Linked DNA regions of Homo sapiens. Changing the gene in region 1 together with any one later gene gives a genetic interaction. Each region holds a gene or a part of one and is shown in the gene's direction. Other genes may lie near its edges. The genes, in order: TXN, NPR1, PPP1CC and REV3L.

Region 1 (5,500 bases):
CCTCTCTGAAAAGTATTCCAACGTGATATTCCTTGAAGTAGATGTGGATGACTGTCAGGTATGTAGCTGGAAATATGAGATACTGCTGAGCTTTTCACATTGGCCTTTTTCTCTGAATTGCACAGTGCTTTTTTCCATAAATATGTCAAATAATTCTAGAACTGTAATCCTATCTAAAAAGTTCTATCTCAGAAGAGCAGGCAAGTTAGGAGCTTAATCCTAGCTATCGGGAGCTGTATATCACATCCTAAAGTAAACAAAAATAAATGAGTGAGACTTCTGAATCTTATCGGCCACCCACCTTTCTAAAACCCTACATTCTACTTTACACTCTGAGATGTGCAATAAATGGAGATTGAATTTAGCTATGATCATTACATCCATAGGCTTGATGGAGTCACCAAATTATGAGACCGCTTGTAGGGCTCTTTGTGAACTTGCAGTAGCATGAGAACCTGCATTTGCAAGCCTATTCTAGTCTTGGTTGATTTTAGTCAATTAGAAACCACAAATGTTTTAACAAATAAACACCAAGGTACCTGAGAGAATAATTTGGAAGAAATTCCAGGGTTGGTTGTATTTAACAAATACTTGTTTTGCACTAGGTATATACCAGGCACTGTTCTGGGTGGTTTTTAAGTATCAGTTCATTTAATCCTGAGTGCTGTTATCATCCCCATTTTATAGATGAGAAAACTGAAACACAGAGGTTGTTCATGAAGTTTCAGTGAGTATGTGGCTGAACTAGGATTTAAAATGAAGTGGTCTGGCTTCCCAGCCCTTGACCTTAAGCACTACCCATCGGAGGATGCTCTGTCTTGTGGGTGTAGATCGGGTGCTTAGCACATGACCACAGACCTAGGAGAGCGGGTTGAGGAGGTATCACTTCGGGGCCCTTTACAGATATGTGAGCATTTTCACTTAGCCCTAGTGGAGAAGGAAAGGCGATGGGGGAAGGGTGCAGTGTGGCAACAGAGGCGCTGGACCTGGCTTCCAGTCCTGGCTCACTAGCATCTGCTTAGGCCAGTCACTCCTCTTCCTTGAGCCTTAAGACCTGCCCCATCAACCTCCCAAGGTTGCTTATTCATTGAGCAAACATGGAATATCCAATAAAGGGTGAAGGGTCACTTAAAACAGGCATATGGCAGTGCTCTCTAAACATGGGAGGGCGCAACAACCCCAGATTGTGTATTCTTAGCCAGTTTTTGACTCTGTGCCTTGGGCAACCCCTGCCTTGGCTTGTGCTGTCTTCTCCATCTGGCCTGTCCTTTCCTTTCCTACCTGACTAACTCCTTGTCATGAGCTTCACCCCTTCTCCACTTACCGCCTTGTGTGCCCTAAGTACCCAGTGAATCTTGGCAATTATTATAATGATCTTTATGTCTGTCCTTTACCATTAGTCTCAGTAGATTCCTAGGATCAGAGACCCTGTCTTAATTCACGTTGGTTGCCCCTTCACCTAGCACACCTGCCTTGCATGTAGTATAGGTGTGGAATGAATGAATGATGAATGTGATATGGTTGTTAAGTTACTATTCTAGATGTGTCCCAGAGTTGTTTTTTTTTTTTTAAAAAGAGTGTAATTGCATTTTTGTGAAAAATCCTTATCCCTTGTTTTAATCAAACTTAGTCTTATTAAGGTCAATTTAGCTAGGGGAAAATTGCACCTGGAATAGAGAAATTCTAACTGCCACTGATCCTATCAGATAGCAACTTGATTTTTTTTTTTTTTTTTTTTTTTTTTTTTTTTTTGAGATGGAGTTCACTCTGTCACCTGGGGTGGAGTGCAGTGGCATGATCTCGGCTCACTGCAACCTCTGCCTCCCGGGTTTAAGCAATCCTCTGTCTCAGCCTCCTGGGTAGCTGGGATTACAGGCATGCACCACCATGCCTGGCTAATTTTGTATTTTTACAAAATTAAAACCCCAGTAGAGACGGGGTTTCACCATGTTGGTCAGGCTGGTCTCGAACTCCTGACTTCAGGTGATCCACCCACCTCGGCCTCCCAAAGTGCTGGGATTATCCACCACGCCCGGCCTTGATTTTTATTTGAAAGCAATAATAGGTGCCAGATGCCATGATAAGCCCTTTGCATGCACTATGTCATTTAATCCTCACGATAACTATACGAGTATTTTTTATTAGCACCCTCATTGAACAGGTAATGGCACTGCAGCACAGAAGGTAAAGTCAGTCTCTTGAGGCAGACCAATGCACCATACTGTACTGAGGACAGGTCTTCTTACTGCCTTTAGGAAGTACAGTCATGCATCACTTAATGATGAGGATACTTTCTGAGAAATGTTAGGCAATTTTGTTGTGCACACATAGAGTGTACTTACACAACCTAGATGGCATAGCCTCCTGTACACCTAGGCTATGTGGTAAAGCCTGTTGCTCCTAGGCCACAAACAGGTAAGGCATGTTACTGTACTGAATACTGTAGGCAGTTATAACACAACAGTAAGTATTTGTGTATCTAAACATAGAAAAGGTATGGTGAAAACATGATATGAAAGATTAAAAAATGGTATGCCTTTATAAGGTACTTGCCATAAACGGGACTTGCAGGACTGAGAGGTGCTCTGGGCGAGTCAGTGAGTGGGTGGTGAGTGAATGTGAAGGCCTAGAACCTGTAGACGTTATAAACACTGTATGCTTACAAATTTTATTTTTAAAATTTCTTTTTTCAGCAATAAATTTATTGTAACTTTTTTACTTTATAGTTTTTTTATTTTTTTAACTCTTTAACTCTTGTAATAACACTTAGCTTAAAACACGAATGCATTGTACAGCTCTACAAAAATATTTTCTTTATATCCTTAGTCTATAAGCTTTTTTTAAAAAGACTTTTTAAACTTTTTGTTACAAACTAAGATTCAAACACATACATTAGCCTAGACCAACACAGGGTCAGGATCATCAGTATCACTGTCTCCCATCCCCACATCTTGTCTCACAGAAAGGTCTTCAGGGACAGTAACATGCATGGACCTTTCATCTCCTATGATAACAGTGCCTTCTCCTGGAATGCTTCCTGAAGGGCCTGCCTGAGCCTGTTGTATAGTAACTGTCTTTTTAAAAAAATAAGTAGGAGTACACTCTAAATTAATAATGAAATTAAAGTAAATACAAAAACCAGTAACGTGGGTGTTTATTATCAAGTAGTATATACTGTCCATAATTGTAGTGATATGCTTTTTTAAGTGAAAGCAAGTTTATTAAGAAAGTAAAGGAACAAAAGAATGGCTATTCCGCAGGTAAAGCAGTCTGTAGTGGTATACTTTGTATGTAATTGCAGCGCAGATTTGTTTGCACCAGCTAATGCGATGGGCTATGACATTAACCCATCACTAGGTGAGAGGAATTTTTCAACTTCATTATAATCTTATGGGACCACCACATATATGCAATCTGTTGTCGATCTAAATGTTATATGGTGCATTACTATAGGTGTGCAAAGCACTCGAGGACTTCCGTATGACAGAGCTCCTCCTTCATGTCTGCTTGGTGCACCCTGATCACCCTGAATGTATCTTTTTTTTTTTTTTTTTTGAGACAGAGTCTCACTCTGTCACCCAGGCTGGAGTGCAGTGGTACCATCTCTGCTCACTGCAACCTCCACCTCCCGGGTTCAAGCGATTCTTCTGCCTCAGCCTCCTGAGTAGCTGGGACTACAGGCAGCCGCTACCACACCAGGCTAAATTTCAACTTTTTAGTAGAGACAGCATTTTGCCATGTTGGCCAGGCTGGTCTCGAACTCCTCACCTCAAGTGATCCACCCGTCTTGGCCTCCCAAAGTGCTGGGATTAGAGGCATGAGCTACCGTGCCTGGCCTGAAAGTGTCTTTTAAAACCTTGAAGTGACCCTCTGACAAACTGAGGAACTTTAACTTTGCCTCCATAGATTGATAGAAAAGTATGAGTAGTAGCCCTTTTGAAAATGATAGACCAACCTTATTTCTCTGACAGCCAACAGGGTTATGATACTTATTTTATAAATGGTAACCTCCCTCTGACCCTTACTTGGAGTGAGTTTTCAATAGTATGCATTCAATAAACATTCACCATTTTTATTCCAGCCATTACTGTCCTTGTGCCTCTTACTGGAACCTGTACTTTCATGCTCAGCAGGTGTCCAGCATTAAAAGAAAAAGTAAAGATTACCTAGAAAGAACTCCTCAACAGTAGTGCCACCCACCATCCTAGAGGTCGTCATAGTGTTTGTAGCTGGCCTTTCTTCCCCTTGAGAATTCTCCGTTGGTTTCCGTGATTTGGTTATCAACAGTCCTGCCTGCTCGCTTGCTGTCCTGTGTAGCTTTTGCTGCTTAGGTGCTGAGTGGTTCTATATTTCTTTCCCAGTCCTCTTTTGAGTGCCTGGCTGACATTTTCAATCTCTATTGGGCTCCAAACCAAACCAGTTTCGTGGTATTGTCCTCCAAACCTTGCCCTCTTATAGCATGAACAATGTGTTGAGCATGGGGTATTATAAGAGTTCTCATTTAGCATTCCACAGTTGAGGAATGTGTGTTACTTCAATTACCTTTGAGCTGTAGAAAAATCTTTAGCTGTGGTAACAGCCACTTCTAGGAGAGGAGAAAATACGGATCAACTAGCCCAATTTGCGATGTTAGGAATTTGTCGATTTTCTTAGTAGGATGGCTTTCAAAGGTTAGAGCATCAGAGTCACCTGAAGCCCGACTTTAACTGTAATGGTTTAAGATGGGGTTGATGGGGAAACTTGTAGTACCCCTCAGGTAATTCTGATACTGCAGCAAGGTTTGAGAATTCACAAAGTCTTTTTATTTTTCCTCCCGAGATAGTCTCATTCTGTCGCCCAGGCTGGAATACAGTGGCATGATCTCAGCTCACTGCAACCTCCGCCTCCCAGGTTCAAGCAATTGTCCTGTCTCAACCTCCTGAGTAGCTGGGATGACAGATGTGTGCCACCACACCTGGCTAATTTTTGTATTTTTAGTAGAGATGGGGTTTCTCCGTGTTAGCCAGGCTAGTCTCGAACTCCTGACCTCAGGTGACCCACCGGCCTTGGCCTCACAAATCAGTTTTTAATTAAAAATAAGCAGGAGGCTGAGTGTGGTGGCTCACACCTGTAATCCTAGCACTTTGGGAGCCCGAGGAAGGTGGATCACTTGAGCTCATGAGTTTGAGACCAGCCTGGGCAACATGGAGAGACCTTGTCCCTATAAAAAAAAAAAAAAAAAAATATATATATATATATATATATATATATATATATATAGTGTGTGTGTGTGTGTATATATATACACACACACACACAAAATTAGCCAGGTGTGGTGGCGTGTGCCTGTAGTCCCAGCTACTGGGGAGGCTGAGGAGGGAGGATGGCTTGAGTCTGGGAAGTGGAGATTGCAGTGAGCTGAGACTATGCCCCTGCATTCCATCCAGCCTGGGTGACACAGCCAGACCCTGTCTCAAAAATAATAATAATCAGTAAACCCAGTGTGGGGTTATTCCTTTAG
Region 2 (4,903 bases), on another chromosome or scaffold:
GGCAGAATGATGTGGAGTCTTAAGAGAGGAGATCGGGGACACGGGCAGAGACAGTGACACAGGGAGACCCGGGAACAGGCAGAGAACCCATGTGGGATGGGGGATGAGCAAAGACAGATGAGGGTACAGAATGACAGACGCTGCACCCGGTGTGACGGTGTGGCCGGCCGCACAGTTGCAGCCGTCAAGTCCTGCACCCCCTCGCCACTCCCACAGGTGGAGACAATTGGCGATGCCTACATGGTGGTGTCAGGGCTCCCTGTGCGGAACGGGCGGCTACACGCCTGCGAGGTAGCCCGCATGGCCCTGGCACTGCTGGATGCTGTGCGCTCCTTCCGAATCCGCCACCGGCCCCAGGAGCAGCTGCGCTTGCGCATTGGCATCCACACAGGTAAGGCCACTGAAGGTGCAGGCGGGCATCCAGAGGCCAAGGCTTCGCAAGGGAAACTTGTCCCCTGGCCCAGCCCCTCGCCCTTTCATCTCTCTCTCTCTCTCTCTCTCTCTCTCTCTCTCTCTCTGTCTCTCTCTCTCTCTCTCTCTCTCTCTCTCTCTCACACACACACACACACACACACACAGAGCTGGGACCTCAGATCCTGCCTCCTGCCTGTCTTGGATTGTCCACCTACCTCCCTTAACACCCCTCCCTCCCTCACTCGCTGATGGGCTCTGCTCCTTCCCTTGCTCCTCCCAGGACCTGTGTGTGCTGGAGTGGTGGGACTGAAGATGCCCCGTTACTGTCTCTTTGGGGATACAGTCAACACAGCCTCAAGAATGGAGTCTAATGGGGAAGGTACAGTGCCCCCTCCTAGAGGGAATGGGGAGGGCAGGGTGGCTGAGGGAAATGCCATCCTGGGGCAGCCTGTGCCTGCACAGCCCGTTTCAGCTCCTAGCCCTTTCGCCTCCCAAGTTCCCCTTCTCATAATATTAAGAGTTCAACCTGGGCTCATCAACTTGACTGTAACCAGAGACTCAGGTTCCTGCTGCCCCTCTTGTCAAACGATGTAAAAGTATTTCCGGGCCAGTGCTGGAGAGTTCCCAGCAGGAATCTGATTTTAAGACCCTCTGTGGGCCGGGCGTGGTGACTCACACCTGTAATCCCAGCACTTTGGGAAGCTGAGGCAGGCGGATCACCTGAGGTCGGGGGTTCGAGACCAGCCTGACCAACATGATGAAATCCCGTCTCTACTAAAAATACAAAAAACTAGCCAGGTGTGATGGCAGGCTCCTGTAATCCCAGCTACTTGGGAGGCTGAGGCAGAAGAATTGCTTGAACCCGGGAGGCAGAGGTTGCGATGAGCCAAGATTACACCACGCACCCCAGCTTGGGCAATAAGAGTTAAACTCTGTCTCAAAAAAAAAAAAAAAAAAAAAAAAAAAGACCCTCTGCTCCACCTTTGATGTGGTAAAGATGGCTTCAGAGCCAGCATAAGTGAGGCTGTGAATCTCAGCTCCACAGCTGGCTGTGTGTCAGTTTGCTATACCTCTCTGAGCCATGGTTTTCCTCATCTGTAAAAAGAGGGAAAAAATCTATCTCACAGGAATTATGTGAGAAACCCATTAAAAATGTCTACCACATAATTGTCATTTAACTTTTCCAAGCCTTAGCGGATTATCTGTAAAATGATGTCTATCTCAGGATTGCAAGAAGCCTAGCACAAACCCTGGTACCCAGCAGGCACCTAATAAATTCTTACTCCTACCCGCCCCTTGCTCTTGCCTCCTGTTTATCTTCTATCCTTCTGCTGTATTCGACACAATTCAATGCAGTAAACATTTATTGAGTGACTACTGAGTGCCAGGCCCTGGGATAGTAACATGGCCCAGATCCAGAGTTAGCTGAGAAATTCATGTGGACCCCATCTAAACCTTATGGTGAAAGAAAGGCTGCTTGGGAGCCAGTCCTGGGAGCCCAGAGGGATCTAGTTCGGCAAATATTCCCTGGGCACTATTTTGGGGGCTGTCAGAGTACAGCCCCTTGTTGAGGGTCCAGTCCTCAAGGAGCACATTCCCAGAAATTGTTCAACATTCTGGGCGCTGGGGGTGCTTGTAATCCCAGCACTTTGGGAGGCCGAGGTGGGCAGATCACTTGAGGCCAGGAGTTGGAGACTAGCCTGGCCAACATGGTGAACCTCCTGTCTCTACTAAAAATACAAAAAATTAGCTGGGCGTGGTGGCACGTGCCCGTAATCCCAGCTACTCAGGAGGCTGAGACATGAAAATCACTTGAACCCAGGAGGTGGATGTTGCAGTGAGCCGAGACTGCACCCCTGGGCAACAGAGCGAGACTCTGTCTCAAAAAAAAAAAAGAGAGAAAGAAAGAAAAGAAAAGAAAGAAACTGTTAAACACAACAAGGCCACTGTGATTGATGCAAACCCCAGAAGTAGGGACATGAGTTCAGACAGTGGTCAAAGAGAGGGTGTGGCAATATTGGGCCCCACTCCATCACTGACCTCCTCAGCCACTTGGGCAGATCACCCTGGGCCTCAGTTCCTCGGCCACAAAATGAGGGTATAGCATGAAATCATGAAAGCAACAATTTACATAGTGCTTCCTAGGTAGCACATTCCGTTTGAATACTTTATGGATGTTAAATTTAATCCTCACAACAAGGTTTTGAGATGGGTACTGACACTATCAGCATTTTACAGATTAGGAAAATGAAGCAGAGAGAATTTATTTTACATACCTAAGCAAGTATCCAAGCTGAGGTTCATACTGAGGCAGTGCAGGATCCAAAGTGCCAGCTCCTAACCACCATGCTGTGTAGAGCCGGGTGACACTCCAGAGAGTGCTGTCCAACAGGATGTTCCATAGTCATGAAAATGTTCTGTATTCTGTGCTGTCCAATACAGTAGCCTCTAGGCACATATGGCTACTTATCACTGGAAATGTGACGGGTGCAACTGAGGCCCTGATTTTTTTTTTTTTTTTTGGAGACAGAGTTTCGCTCTGTCGCCCAGCCTGGATGGAGTGCAGTGGTGCAATCTCGGCTCACTGCAACCTCCGCCTCCCAGGTTCAAGCGATTCTCCTGCCTCAGCCTCCCAAGTAGCTGGAATTACAGGTGAGTGCCACCACACACAGCTAATTTTTGTATTTTTAGTAGAGACGGGGTTTCGCCATATTGGCCAGGATGGTCTCGAACTCCTGGCCTCAAGTGATCCTCCTGCCTCAGCCTCCCAAAGTGCTGGGATTACAGGTGTGAGCCACAGCACCCAGCCTGAATTTTTAACTGTATTTAGTTTAAATTAATTTAAGTTGAAACAGGCACATGTGATTAGTGGCTACTGTATTGGATTACACAGCTCCAGAGTTCTAAATGAGAGGCTAATGTGGTCACGCACTACATTCAGGGGGTGGGGCCCCTCTGAGCTAGAGGGCTTCCTGGCCCAAAAGAGGGAGAGAGGGTACCTGTCCACCTGTCCACCCCCACAGTCCCTGGTCTCTTTTGCCTCTACTTTCCTGCTCTCCTCTCTCACATTGCTCACCTTCCCTTCTCCCCTGTCCTACCCAGCCCTGAAGATCCACTTGTCTTCTGAGACCAAGGCTGTCCTGGAGGAGTTTGGTGGTTTCGAGCTGGAGCTTCGAGGGGATGTAGAAATGAAGGTAGAGGGAGAAGCCTCTGCCCTCCCCACCTTTTGGGGTCCTAGAGGGAGTTACCCTTCTCAAGCAGCCAATGCCACTCCCATCCCTAAGGCTCTCATCTGACTGGGGAAAGGGCATGTGCCACTCCCCAGCCCATCCTCTTTTTTCCCTCCAGGGCAAAGGCAAGGTTCGGACCTACTGGCTCCTTGGGGAGAGGGGGAGTAGCACCCGAGGCTGACCTGCCTCCTCTCCTATCCCTCCACACCTCCCTACCCTGTGCCAGAAGCAACAGAGGTGCCAGGCCTCAGCCTCACCCACAGCAGCCCCATCGCCAAAGGATGGAAGTAATTTGAATAGCTCAGGTGTGCTGACCCCAGTGAAGACACCAGATAGGACCTCTGAGAGGGGACTGGCATGGGGGGATCTCAGAGCTTACAGGCTGAGCCAAGCCCACGGCCATGCACAGGGACACTCACACAGGCACACGCACCTGCTCTCCACCTGGACTCAGGCCGGGCTGGGCTGTGGATTCCTGATCCCCTCCCCTCCCCATGCTCTCCTCCCTCAGCCTTGCTACCCTGTGACTTACTGGGAGGAGAAAGAGTCACCTGAAGGGGAACATGAAAAGAGACTAGGTGAAGAGAGGGCAGGGGAGCCCACATCTGGGGCTGGCCCACAATACCTGCTCCCCCGACCCCCTCCACCCAGCAGTAGACACAGTGCACAGGGGAGAAGAGGGGTGGCGCAGAAGGGTTGGGGGCCTGTATGCCTTGCTTCTACCATGAGCAGAGACAATTAAAATCTTTATTCCAGTGACAGTGTCTCTTCTTGAGGGAGAGAGGGTTGCCAGAAAACAGTCAGTTCTCCACTCTCTACTTCAAATAAGACTCACTTCTTGTTCTACAAGGGTCTAGAAGGAAAAGTAAAAAAAAAAGACTCTCGATTCTTAAGCTGGGAATGCAGGCTCTGAGAGTAGTAACAGCCTATGAATTGCCCAGCAGTGCTGAAACTGGTTTAAGGACCCATTTACATCCTTAAGAATTATTATTATTGGCCGGGCACAGGGGCTCATGCCTGTAATCCCAGCACTTTGGGAGGCTGAGGTGGATGGATCACCTGAGGTCAAGAGTTCAAAACCAGCCTGGCCAACATGGTGAAACCCAGTCTCTACTAAAAATACAAAAATTAGCTGGGTATGGTGGCACGCGCCTGTAATCCCAGCTACTCAGGAGACTGAGGCAGGAGAATCTCTTTTTTTTTTTTTTTTTTTGAGACGGAGTCTCGCTCCTTCGCCCAGGCTGGAGTGCAGTGGTGCC
Region 3 (5,500 bases), on another chromosome or scaffold:
AATTAATAAAGCAGTGCATTTTAATGCCTTGGGAATAGGCTAACTGCAAAGTATACTTAAATTTCTTTTTTTCTCGTGGGTGTTAAATTGGCAGAGAAACAGTTGAAGATGATCCATTGAGGATATGTAGATATCTAAGTTAAATGATGTTGGTAATAAATTCTGTTTTACAATTTTTTATTTAAAAAAATTAAATTTAATAATTTAAAATAGAAATGAGAGTCTCACTGTGTTGCCCAGGCTGTTCTCAAACTCCTGGTTTCAAGCAGTCCTCGCACCTCGTCCTCCCCAGGTGCTGGGGTTATAGTCATGAGCCACCGTGCCCGGCCTAAATTTTATTCTTTTCATAATGCCCCCAAAACCTTTTTTTTCCCTAAATAAGATGTAAGTATATCTGAAAGTAGAGGGAATATGACTTGTGACTTTGGCCAGATTTTTTTACGTGTTTAGAATTGATCTTTTAAGCTTGCGAGCAGTATAACCTAGTTGAGAAGTAGCTGAGTAATAGTACTAAAAAGCTAACTGAAAAGTGAAGTCTTAAGAAAAACAGCATGTTGGTTTAGATCTTAGTCACTAACCTTTGCAGTTCTTTTCTTCTCTGAACTCTGAGTATTTCTGTAAGCGAGGCATCACCTCTGCAACCCACCATGGATGCTTTTATCCAAGCTCTGCCTTGCTGATGATAAAACTTAAGGTTGTTAACTCCTTAGTATAACTGATGTTAGTTATTTAAATAACTACACAGTAAAACGGCATTTTGAGAGAAAATAAGCCAGCTGTTGATTTGGTCTGATGTATTGAAGACAAGTGAGATTTGGGGCAGTTTTACTTTGTAAATGACCTCCTTCAAGGAGCCATGGTGGCTAGCATTTTTTTTGCATAGCAGGTGGTTGTAACTTACTTCACATCTTGGTTTGCAAGAAGCATCTTTGCTTTGAAGAAGGCCATTGTCAAAGTGCAAGACCATGTCAGGCTCTGCAGAATTGCCTGACTTGTTTTAGTGATTTAAATATGATCTCTGCCCTGGCTCACAGAAAGTGCTTACAGATTTAATCCTCTGATACATAAGGGTTGTTCTGAAGGTAGGGAGTGTTCAGATATTCTGAAACTCTAAGATTGTTTAAATAACCCATATGTTCATCTTTTTGATGCAGTATAAAACGTTCATATTCTGGTGTTTAGCCATCCCTGGTCCTAAAGATAATAAAGGACAAACATAATGGTTTAAAAAGGGGAAGGTTTCTTAATATGCTAACCAAAAAAAAAAACAAAAGTAATCTTTCCTAATGAACACCTGTAATTATTTATTTTTTTATTTTATTTTGGAGACAGAGTCTCACTCTGTCACCCAGGCTGGAGTGCAGTGGTGGGATCCTGGCTCACTGCAACCTCTGCCTCCCGGGTTCAAGCGATTTTGGTGTCTCAGCCCCCTGAGTAGCTGGGATTAACAGGCATGCACCACCACGCTCGGCCAAGTTTTTGTATTTTTAGTAGAGATGAGGCCAGGCTGGTTTTGAACTCGTGACCTCAAGTGGTCTGCCCGCCTCAGACTCCCAAAGTGCTGGGATTACAGGCATGAGCCACCGTGCCCAGCCTGTAATTATTTGTTTACAGAGCAGGTAATTTTTACACTCACATCCAAGTTGTCAGTTTCTAATTCCCTCATTGATAAGAACTCTGATGTGAGCCCTTGCCCTTCCTTTCCCATCAGTATGTTGGTCATATGCCCACTTCCTCTCCTCCTAGGCAAGGTGGGAAAGCTCTGTTGGAGACAGATGATCTGCAGCTTGCAGGAGTCCTTTTTTAAACCACAGCATTGAAAAAGGATTACTCTCCTTGTGCCCGCAGTGCCCTCTTGCCTGTCAGTAGCAGGAGGCAGCAGTGAAATCTGACAGAATTGTGTGTGACGTTGTGCTTGCGGGGGATGTGACACACAGGAGCGCTCTGCATTCTGAGCCTAGGGTGTTCCTCCTCATAACTGGGCAAATGGACATGCAGTTGTAGCCCAGCAGTGGTCAGCTGTAGAAATTAGTGAGGTGATTTGATGTCTTTGAAAGCACAGTCCTATTACAACCTGTAACCTGTTGTGCAGAATCACAGTACCAGTCAGCCCACTTGACTAGGTGAGGATTCCTGATGGTGAAGCAGGGAAATTATTGATGTTATGTGGACTTCACCATTTAACTTAATTTACAATTGAGGCCATTAGTTGACCTGAGAGATTAAAATATGAAGGAGATAATATTCTGGGTGTCAGTCGCTTTGTAGATAAAGAACTGGAAAGTCATTCAAGACCAAGAAGGAAGGATTTCATTTCCATGGAGCTTATGGAATTCCAGGATAGAGTTTGATATTTTAAGATCATACCTCTGTATCCAAAGCATCAAGAACAGATGATGTGTTTGTGGATCTTGGTGATTTGTCTGAAATCTCCAGCTTCCCCACTTCACTGGGGTTTACTGTCATCCCTCTTCTAGAAGGTAGTGGTCATCACCGACAGTAAAGCTTACAGCAAATGAAAACTCAAAATGTAGTCTACTCAGTGGTATATTACCGAAATGTGTTCTTAGACTGTGAAAATTAAAGTTTTTAATGGATTGGCTTTACTCGAGGTGTAGAAAACTCAAGATGCTTTATTGAGAACAGTAGACAGTGTTTTGCAGCCACATCCTATCTGCCTTGAAAAAAATGGTGTCACTTTTATTTTTTTTACTAGAGACTGGGTCTCACTCTGTCCCCAGGCTGGAGACCTGAACTCCTGGGTTCAAGCGATTCTTCCTCCTCATCCTCTTGGCTAGCCGGATCTATAGGCACACACCACCACACCTGGCTAATTTTTTTTTCTTTTTCTTTTTTTCTTAAAGACAGGGGTGTTGCCTAGGCTGTTCTTTAACTCCTGGCCACAAGCAGTCCTCCCACCTCAGCCTCCCAAAGTGCTGGGATTACAAGCGTGAACCACAGCTCCCTGCCTTGGTGTCACTTCTCAATGCCTGAAGTGTAACCCCATCTGTTAGGAAAATCAGGATGGGAGAGGGCAGGGTGTGGAAACAATTGTGATAATCAGAACATGGAAGTCTTTCTGCTGGTGACTTTGCAGAGAAACTTAAAGGGTTCTTTTTTCTTTTCTTTTCTTTTTTTTTTTTTTTTTTTTTTTTGAGTCTTTCTTTGTCACCCAGGCTGGAGTGCAGTGGCAGGATCTCGGCCCACTGCTGCCTCCACCACCCAGGTTCAAGCGATTTCTCCTGCCTCAGCCTCAGTTGTTGAGTAGCTGGGACTACAGGCATGTACCACCATGCCCTGCTAATTTTTGTATTTTTGGTAGAGATGGGGTTTTACCATGTTGGCCAGGCTGGTCTCAAACTCCTGACCTCAGCTGATCCACCCACCTTGGCCTCCCAAAGTGCTGGGATTACAGGCGTTAGACACCGCATCCGGCCCAAAGGATTCTTGATAACATTTTTGTGGTTTATACTTTTTGCAGAAAAGAACTCAGTCGTTTATGGGAATGCTTAATGTTGGAAGTATTTACTGTTTTTTGTTTTGGTTTGAGTCTTATTTTCCTAAATCTGTCAAATATCATGAGGCTATTGATTTCACTGAAATGAATATGATGTGGCATATTGTTAAAATTATCACCTACTTTTTAACAGGATTATTTTAAAACAGCAAAATCTTCGTTGGCTTATTTTTATACCACTTGTGCCTTTCTTAGGTTCTGAAACTTCATTAGAATTCAGCTAGGGCTTTTTTAGTATATGCTATTTCTTTAATATGTTTTTATTTAAACAATTAAGGGGCCTTTATGTGGCAAGGAAAATACTTTTTTATTCCTTATAAATAATCTCAAACTTGTCTTAAATTTCCTTCCATAGTTTCCATCTTTGCTTTGCTTTTTGCCAGCAGCTAACTTTCAAAAGTTAGTATTGCTTATGAGAAAGAGCTGGTGTTGTAAATAATCACCAATGCTATTTTATTTATTTATATTTTTTGAGACAGGATCTCACTCTGTGGCCCAGGCTGGAGTGCAGTGGCATGATCTCGGCTCAATGCAGCATCTGTCTCCCGGGCTCAAGTGATCCTCCCATCTTAGCCTCCCGAGTAGCTGGGACTACAGGCGCACGCCACCATGTCCAGCTATATTTTGTATTTTTGGTAGAGACTCAATTTCACCATGTTGCCCAGGCTAGTCTCTAACTCCTGAGCTCAAGTGATCCTCCCACCTCGGCCTCCCAAAGTGCTGGGATTATAGGCCCAAGCCACCACATCTGGCTGCTATTCTTTTATAATTCAAATTTTTACCAGTTTGTTTTCAATAAAAATGTGTGGAAGTTTTTATTATTGCTCGTGTCAGTGATTTGCCAGAAAAATAGATCAGATACATTTCTACAGAGCAACCTTCGCTTTTAACAGTAATAATACGTTTTCCTGAATCTCCCTTTCTAGCCAGATAAAGAAATATTAATACTTCTACTGAAAAGTCACATCCTTAGGTCTAAGTTGGTGTTGCTTTTTTGTTGTTGTTTGTTTGTTTGTTTTGAGACGGAGTTTGTTTGTTTGTTTGTTTGTTTTGAGACAAAGTCTTATTCTTGTTCCCCAGGCTGGAGTGTGATGATGCGATCTGGGCTCACTGCAACCTGCCCCGTGGGTTCCAGCGATTCTCCTGCCTCAGCCTCCCGAGTAGCTGGGATTACAGGTGCCTGCCACCACGCCTGGCTAATTTTTGTATTTTTAGTAGAGACGGGGTTTCACCATGTTGGCCAGGCTGGTCTCGAACTCCTTACCTCAGGTGATCCGCCCGCTTCGGACTCCTAAAGTGCTGGGATTACTGGCATGAGCCACCGTGCCTGGCCGAGACGGAGTTTCTTTCTTGTTGCCCAGGATGGAGTGCAGTGGCACAATCTCGGCTCACTGCAACTTCCACCTCCCAGGTTCAAGTGATTCTCGTGCCTCAGCCTCCTGTGTAGCTGGGGTTACAGGCGTGCACCACCATGCCCAGCAAATTTTTGTATTTTTAGTAGAGATGGGGTTTCACCATGTTGGCCAGGCTGGTCTCGAACTCCTAACCTCAGGTCATCCACCCATCTCGGCCTCCCAAAGTGTTGGGATTACAGGCATGAGCCACCGTGCCCAACCTTCTCCTTTGGTTTTGAAGTTCAATGTAGAACAGATTCTTAATTGGGAATTAAGAATGCACCACTAGATGTAGCATCGCGGCCTCGTGTCCTTAAGCTCTGTGACCTTGGACTAAGTCACTGTAAAATGGGAGATGACAGTGCCTGACTTCCTAGGATCGTTGACAGGATTGAATGGCAATATAAAGCCCTTAGTACAGTGCCTAGTGGATAAGTGCTCAGTAAATGTTAACTACAACGAGTAAATAATTCTGTTTGATGGACATTGAAAATAGTGAAGTGGGCCAGGCACGGTGGCGCACGCCTATAATCCCAGCTACTTGGGAGGCTGAGGCAGGAGAATCACTTGAACCCAGGAGGTGGAGGTT
Region 4 (5,343 bases), on another chromosome or scaffold:
GTCACACTCTACCTCGACCCATACCATATTGAACTTCTCTTAGGTCTGTGAATGCCCCTCGCCGCCTCCTCCTGGCCTTTAAACACCCTGCTCCTTCTGCCAGGAACACTTTCCTCTACCTATCCCACCCCACCCCCCATCTTCTGAGGAATCAGCTGAAACCTCTGGACTGGGTGAAGCCTTCCTTGCAGTAGGCTCCTGCCATAATCTCCTCTGCTTTACTGTGATTTGGGGTTTGTCTGTCTTCCTCACTAAATAGCAAATGAACCAGTGAGGACAGAGGCCCAGTTCTTTGACTGTCAAGTCAGTTATGCCTAGCATATAGCCAAGCCCATGGGGCTGGTCTGTAAATATTTATTGAATAAATGAACAAGTTCCTGGTTAATGCATGATTAAAGAAGGAATATATCACTGGAGTTATTACCAACCAACTTTCAGCCATTTTTTACCAGTTTTGTGGTTCTAGTCAGTACAACCACTGAAGTCACTGGGTGCTCCCAGCTTCTATTTATTTAATAGACTTCTGTCCTGATGGCAGCAGCCAACTCTCATAGAAAATTCCCTTGCTGGATCCTAGTATGACGCCTAAATGAGAGCAGGACCTCCAGGGCTCTGCTAAGGTCAGGCTGTTAAATGGTCCTTTCCTAGACTTTCTTATGTTTTTTCTGCACTCAATGACAAACACATCACTACTTGGTGCCATCAATTTACCCAGAGCCCATCCTCCTTCAACATTAGGTGTTCATTCTTTTTTTCTTTTTATTTATTTATTTTTATTTTATTTTATTTTTGAGGTAGGGTCTCACTTTGTCACCCAGACTGAAATGCAGTGGCATGATTACAGCTCATTGCAGCCTCAACCTCCTGGGCTCAAGTGATCCTCTCAGCTCAGCCTCCCATGTAGCTGGGACTACAGGCATATCCCACCATGTTTTACTAATTATTTTTTTTTAGACATCGGGTCTCACTATGTTGCCCAGGCTGGTCTCAAACTGTTGGACTCAAGCAATCCTCCCACTTCAGCTGCCTAAGGGCTGGGATTACAGGCATGAACCATGATGCCCGGCCATCTTATTTCTTATAAAAATACAGTTTAAAAGAAAGTGATGCCACAGCCATAAAAAAAGAATAAAATCGGCCGGGCGTGGTGGCTCATGCCTACAAATCCCAGCACTTTCGGAGGCCGAGGCGGGCGGATCACGTGAGGTCGGGAGTTCGAGACCAGCCTGACCAATATGGAGAAATTCCATCTCTACTAAAAATACAAAATTAGCCAGGCGTGGTGGCACATGCCTGTAATCCCAGCTACTCAGGAGGCTGAGGCAGGAGAATCGCTTGAACCTGGGAGGCAGAGGTTGCAGTGAGCTGAGATTGCAGCATTGCACTCCAGCCTGGGGAACAAGAGCGAAACTCTGTCTCAAAAAAAAAAAAAAAAGAACAAAGAACAAAATCATGTCCTTTGTAACAACATGGATGCAGCTGGGGCTATTATCCTAAGCAAATTAACGCAGAAACAGAAAACCAAATACTGCATGTTCTCACATATAATGAACATTGGGTACTCATGGACATAAAGATGGGAATGATGAACACTAGGGATTCCAAAAGGGGGGTGAGGAGAGGAAAAGTTGAAAAACCACCTGTCAGATACTACATTTACTGCATGGGCAACAGGATCATTAGAAGCTCAAACCTCAACATCATACAGTATACCCATGTAACAAACCTACATGTATACCCTTGGATCGAAAAAAAAAAAAAAAAGAAAAAGCGATGCTATTTATAAATAATGATGGTTTGTCATCTTTCAAGAGCTATTTTAATTTGAGGTGTTTTTCAAGAACGTTCAAATGAATGTCTCCCATACACTAATTTGTAGAAATTTTTAATGAAGCAGAAATTACTAGAGATGTAATGAGAATTAGAAACACATCCAAACAGGAGATTTTACATCATTCTCAATCCAAGACCAATCAAGTGATCAGAAATAAGTGAAATTATGGAAATTGTAAACATTATAAGTCAGACCTTGTGATTATATATCAAACTCTGTAACCCAGTACCAAAAAATGTACTTCTTAAGTGTTTCTAGAATGTTTTAAATGTCTCCCATGCACTAATTTGTAGAAATTTTTAATGAAGCAGAAATTACTAGAGATGTAATGAGAATTAGAAACACATCCAAACAGGAGATTTTACATCATTCTCAATCCAAGACCAATCAAGTGATCAGAAATAAGTGAAATTATGGAAATTGTAAACATTATAAGTCAGACCTTGTGATTATATATCAAACTCTGTAACCCAGTACCAAAAAATATACTTCTTAAGTGTTTCTAGAATGTTTTAAAAATATCTGGCCAGGTGTGGTGACTCATGCCTGTAATCCCAACACTTTGGGAGGCCAAGGCAGGTAGATCACCTGGGGTCAGGAGTTTGAAACGTTTGGCCAACATGGAGAAACCCCAGCTCTACTAAAAAATACAAAAATTAGCCAGGCATGGTGGCATGAGCCTTGTACTCCCAACTACTCAGGAGGCTGAGGCAGGAAAATCACTTGAACCCAGGAGGCAGAGGCTGCAGTGAGCCGAGATCACACCACTGAACTCCAGCCTGGGTGACAGAGCAAGACTCCATCTTAAAAAAAAAAAAAAAAAAAAAAAAAAAAAAAAAAAAGTCATAGTCTGTTAAAAAAAAAAAAAAAAAGCCTCGGCTGGGGATCATGGCTCACGCCTATAATCCCAGCACTTTGGGAGGCTGAGGCAGGAGGATCACTTGAGGGCAGGAGTTTGAGACCAGCCTGGCCAACATGGCAAAACCCCATCTCTACTAAAAATACAAAAATTAGCAGGGTATGGTGGCAGGCACCTATAATCCCAGCTACTTGGGAGGCTGAGGTAGGACAATCGCTTGAGCCAGGGAGGCAGAGGTTACAGTGAGCTGAGATTGTGCCACTGCACTCCAGCCTGGGCAACAGAGTGAGACTCCATTTCAAAAATAATAAATTAAAAATAAAATAATAAAAATTAAAATTTAAAATTAGCCAGGCATGGTGGCGGGCACCCGCAATCCCAGCTACTAAGGAGGCTGAGGCAGGAGAATCACTTGAACCTAGGAGGCAGAGGTTGCAGTGAACTGAGATCATGCCACTGCACTCCAGCCTGGGCAACAGAATGAGACGCTCTCTCTCATCTCAAAAAAAAAAAAAAAAAGAAAGAAAAGAAAGCCTCAGTACATTTCAAAAAGTAGAAATATTACAAATGAATGTAATACAATGCTATAAAATGGTAATTAATTACAAACTAAAAAAAAAAGTGATCCTTCCACTTGTAAATTCTGTTAAACAAAATGAAAACACTGCAAATCAGATTCTAGATGGCAGACCTCAGAGAAAAATTCATCACCTTAACACTGTTAATCATAAACATGAAAGAATGAAAGCAAATGAAGCAAGCATCTGACTGAAAAATTTTTTTTGAGACGGAGTCTCACTGTTGCCCAGGCTGGAGTGTAGTTGGTGCAATCTTGGCTCACTGCAACCTCTGCCTTCCAGGTTCAAGCAATTCTCCTGCCTCAGCCTCCCGAGTAGCTGGGATTACAGGCATGCACCACCACGCCCAGCTAATTTTCGTATTTTTAGTGGAGACAGTTTCACCATGTTGGCCAGGTGGTCTCAAACTCCTGACCTCAGGTGATCCACCTGCCTCTGCCTCCCAGAGTACTAGGATTACAGGCATGAGCCACTGTGCCCAGCCTTGACTAAATTTTTTTTGAACAAGAAAGCCAAAGGATAGTAAAAAGAATAAAGATTAAAGCAGATATTTTTTAAGTGCCTGCCTCCCTATGTGCTACAAAGTAGATGTCCGGGTTGGGGCACTAAAGTTTTAAATGTAAGCCTGAATCAAGCTATAATGCTCAGGGTTTAAACCAGTAAAGGATCTTGAAACTAAACACTGAGTTAAATTTAGTGAGTCAAGTAATTCCATCCTGGCTTATTTATCAGACAAGCACAGAAAGAGCTTAAATATTTATCAGTTTGTCCTGGCACCTGAATGTAACTGCAATTCATAGAGCTGTAATACAGAAATTCTATATTTGGGAATAGATTTGAGTCTCTTGGCAGAGATCTAATTAGCAAAGGCTTCATCATAGAACAGCATACTCAGTCTTCATGGAGCATACTGAAGCACATGTTTGTAAGCAGTCTGCTTGTGACAATATCATAATATTGGATACAGTAACCAGTCTACTTAGAAAAAGTGTGCCCTTCGGTTAACTGGAAGATAACTGGGGCAAAGAACAAAACTTCACTGGCCTGTGAGCCATCTCTGAAACTGAAACCCTTTGATAAATATAGATCAAAGAATTCACTAGAGCGTATTTGATTTCTCTTAAAAGACAATCCAGAGTAGTTGTTGCCATTTGGTATGGCTTTTTTAAAATCACTTGTCTACACTATTCAGGTGAAAGTCGGCCTGCATTTTCTTAACCTTTGGAGTCTTCATTGGCATCCTTTTTAATTTTTTTATGTTCTTCATGTTTTATAACCTTTTTTTTAACTATATATGCAACTTGAGACTTTAAAGTATTTTTAAAAATTGATCATTGTGTAAAACATTATAGTGCTTCTCTTTTTAAAAATTGCCTTATGATTTATTATTTTCCTTAAGATCAGATCTTATTATACATCCAAATCATCTGGGAAGCCTTAAGAAGTACAGATTCTTAGGCTTTCATGCCTGGAGATTCTGACTCATTATGGGTCTGGGATGGGGCACTTGTTTATTTTTAAGCTCATTGTTAGCCAGGGTTAAGAACCACTGGTCTGCACCACTACTTTCAAATTCACATTATTTGATTTTTTTTTTTTTTGAAATTTTACAGCTGGGTCTCTGGGGGTGACATCACATGTTGGCAGGTTCCTTGATGCCCCTTGAGCCACAAAACCAGCAAGTTTTTATTAGGGGTTTCAAAAGGGGAGGGGTGTACGAATAGGGAGTGGGTCACATGCTTCAAAGGCAGTAAAATATCACAACAGCAAAGAGGCAGAGTGAGATCACAAGGCCAGGGTGAAACTAGAATTACTGATGAAGGTCCATGTCGTGCTGGGCACACATTGTCATTGATAAACATCTTAACAGGAAACAGGGTTCGTGATCAGACAACCAGTCTGACTAGAATTCGCCAGGCTGGAATTTCCTAATCCTAGCAAGCCTGGGGGTGCTGCAGGAGGCCAGGGCATATTTCATCCCGTGTCTACAACTGCATAAGACAGACACTCCCAGAGTGGCCATTTTAGAGACCTACCCCTGAGAATGCATTCGTTTTCCCGGGGTTATTCCT

Evidence for each region.
Region 2: changes in TXN (region 1) and NPR1 together harm fitness more than expected from each alone (negative genetic interaction), as found in Homo sapiens cells (one large-scale study listed by BioGRID).
Region 3: changes in TXN (region 1) and PPP1CC together harm fitness less than expected from each alone (positive genetic interaction), as found in Homo sapiens cells (one large-scale study listed by BioGRID).
Region 4: changes in TXN (region 1) and REV3L impair growth when combined (synthetic growth defect), as found in Homo sapiens cells (one large-scale study listed by BioGRID).

Annotation. Positions count from the first base shown.
Region 1 is NC_000009.12:110,245,378-110,250,877, reverse strand, and holds part of TXN (thioredoxin), read left to right. Parts: coding exon 1-58; intron 59-5,500. UniProt on the Homo sapiens protein: Participates in various redox reactions through the reversible oxidation of its active center dithiol to a disulfide and catalyzes dithiol-disulfide exchange reactions.
Region 2 is NC_000001.11:153,689,590-153,694,492, forward strand, and holds the end of NPR1 (atrial natriuretic peptide receptor 1 precursor), read left to right. Parts: intron 1-115; exon of another isoform or gene 116-204; intron 205-216; coding exon 217-391; intron 392-694; coding exon 695-793; intron 794-3,516; coding exon 3,517-3,608; intron 3,609-3,762; coding exon 3,763-3,825; 3' UTR 3,826-4,403; downstream 4,404-4,903. UniProt on the Homo sapiens protein: Receptor for the atrial natriuretic peptide NPPA/ANP and the brain natriuretic peptide NPPB/BNP which are potent vasoactive hormones playing a key role in cardiovascular homeostasis.
Region 3 is NC_000012.12:110,735,133-110,740,632, reverse strand, and holds part of PPP1CC (serine/threonine-protein phosphatase PP1-gamma catalytic subunit), read left to right. Parts: intron 1-5,500. UniProt on the Homo sapiens protein: Protein phosphatase that associates with over 200 regulatory proteins to form highly specific holoenzymes which dephosphorylate hundreds of biological targets.
Region 4 is NC_000006.12:111,301,035-111,306,377, reverse strand, and holds part of REV3L (DNA polymerase zeta catalytic subunit), read left to right. Parts: intron 1-5,343. UniProt on the Homo sapiens protein: Catalytic subunit of the DNA polymerase zeta complex, an error-prone polymerase specialized in translesion DNA synthesis (TLS). Lacks an intrinsic 3'-5' exonuclease activity and thus has no proofreading function.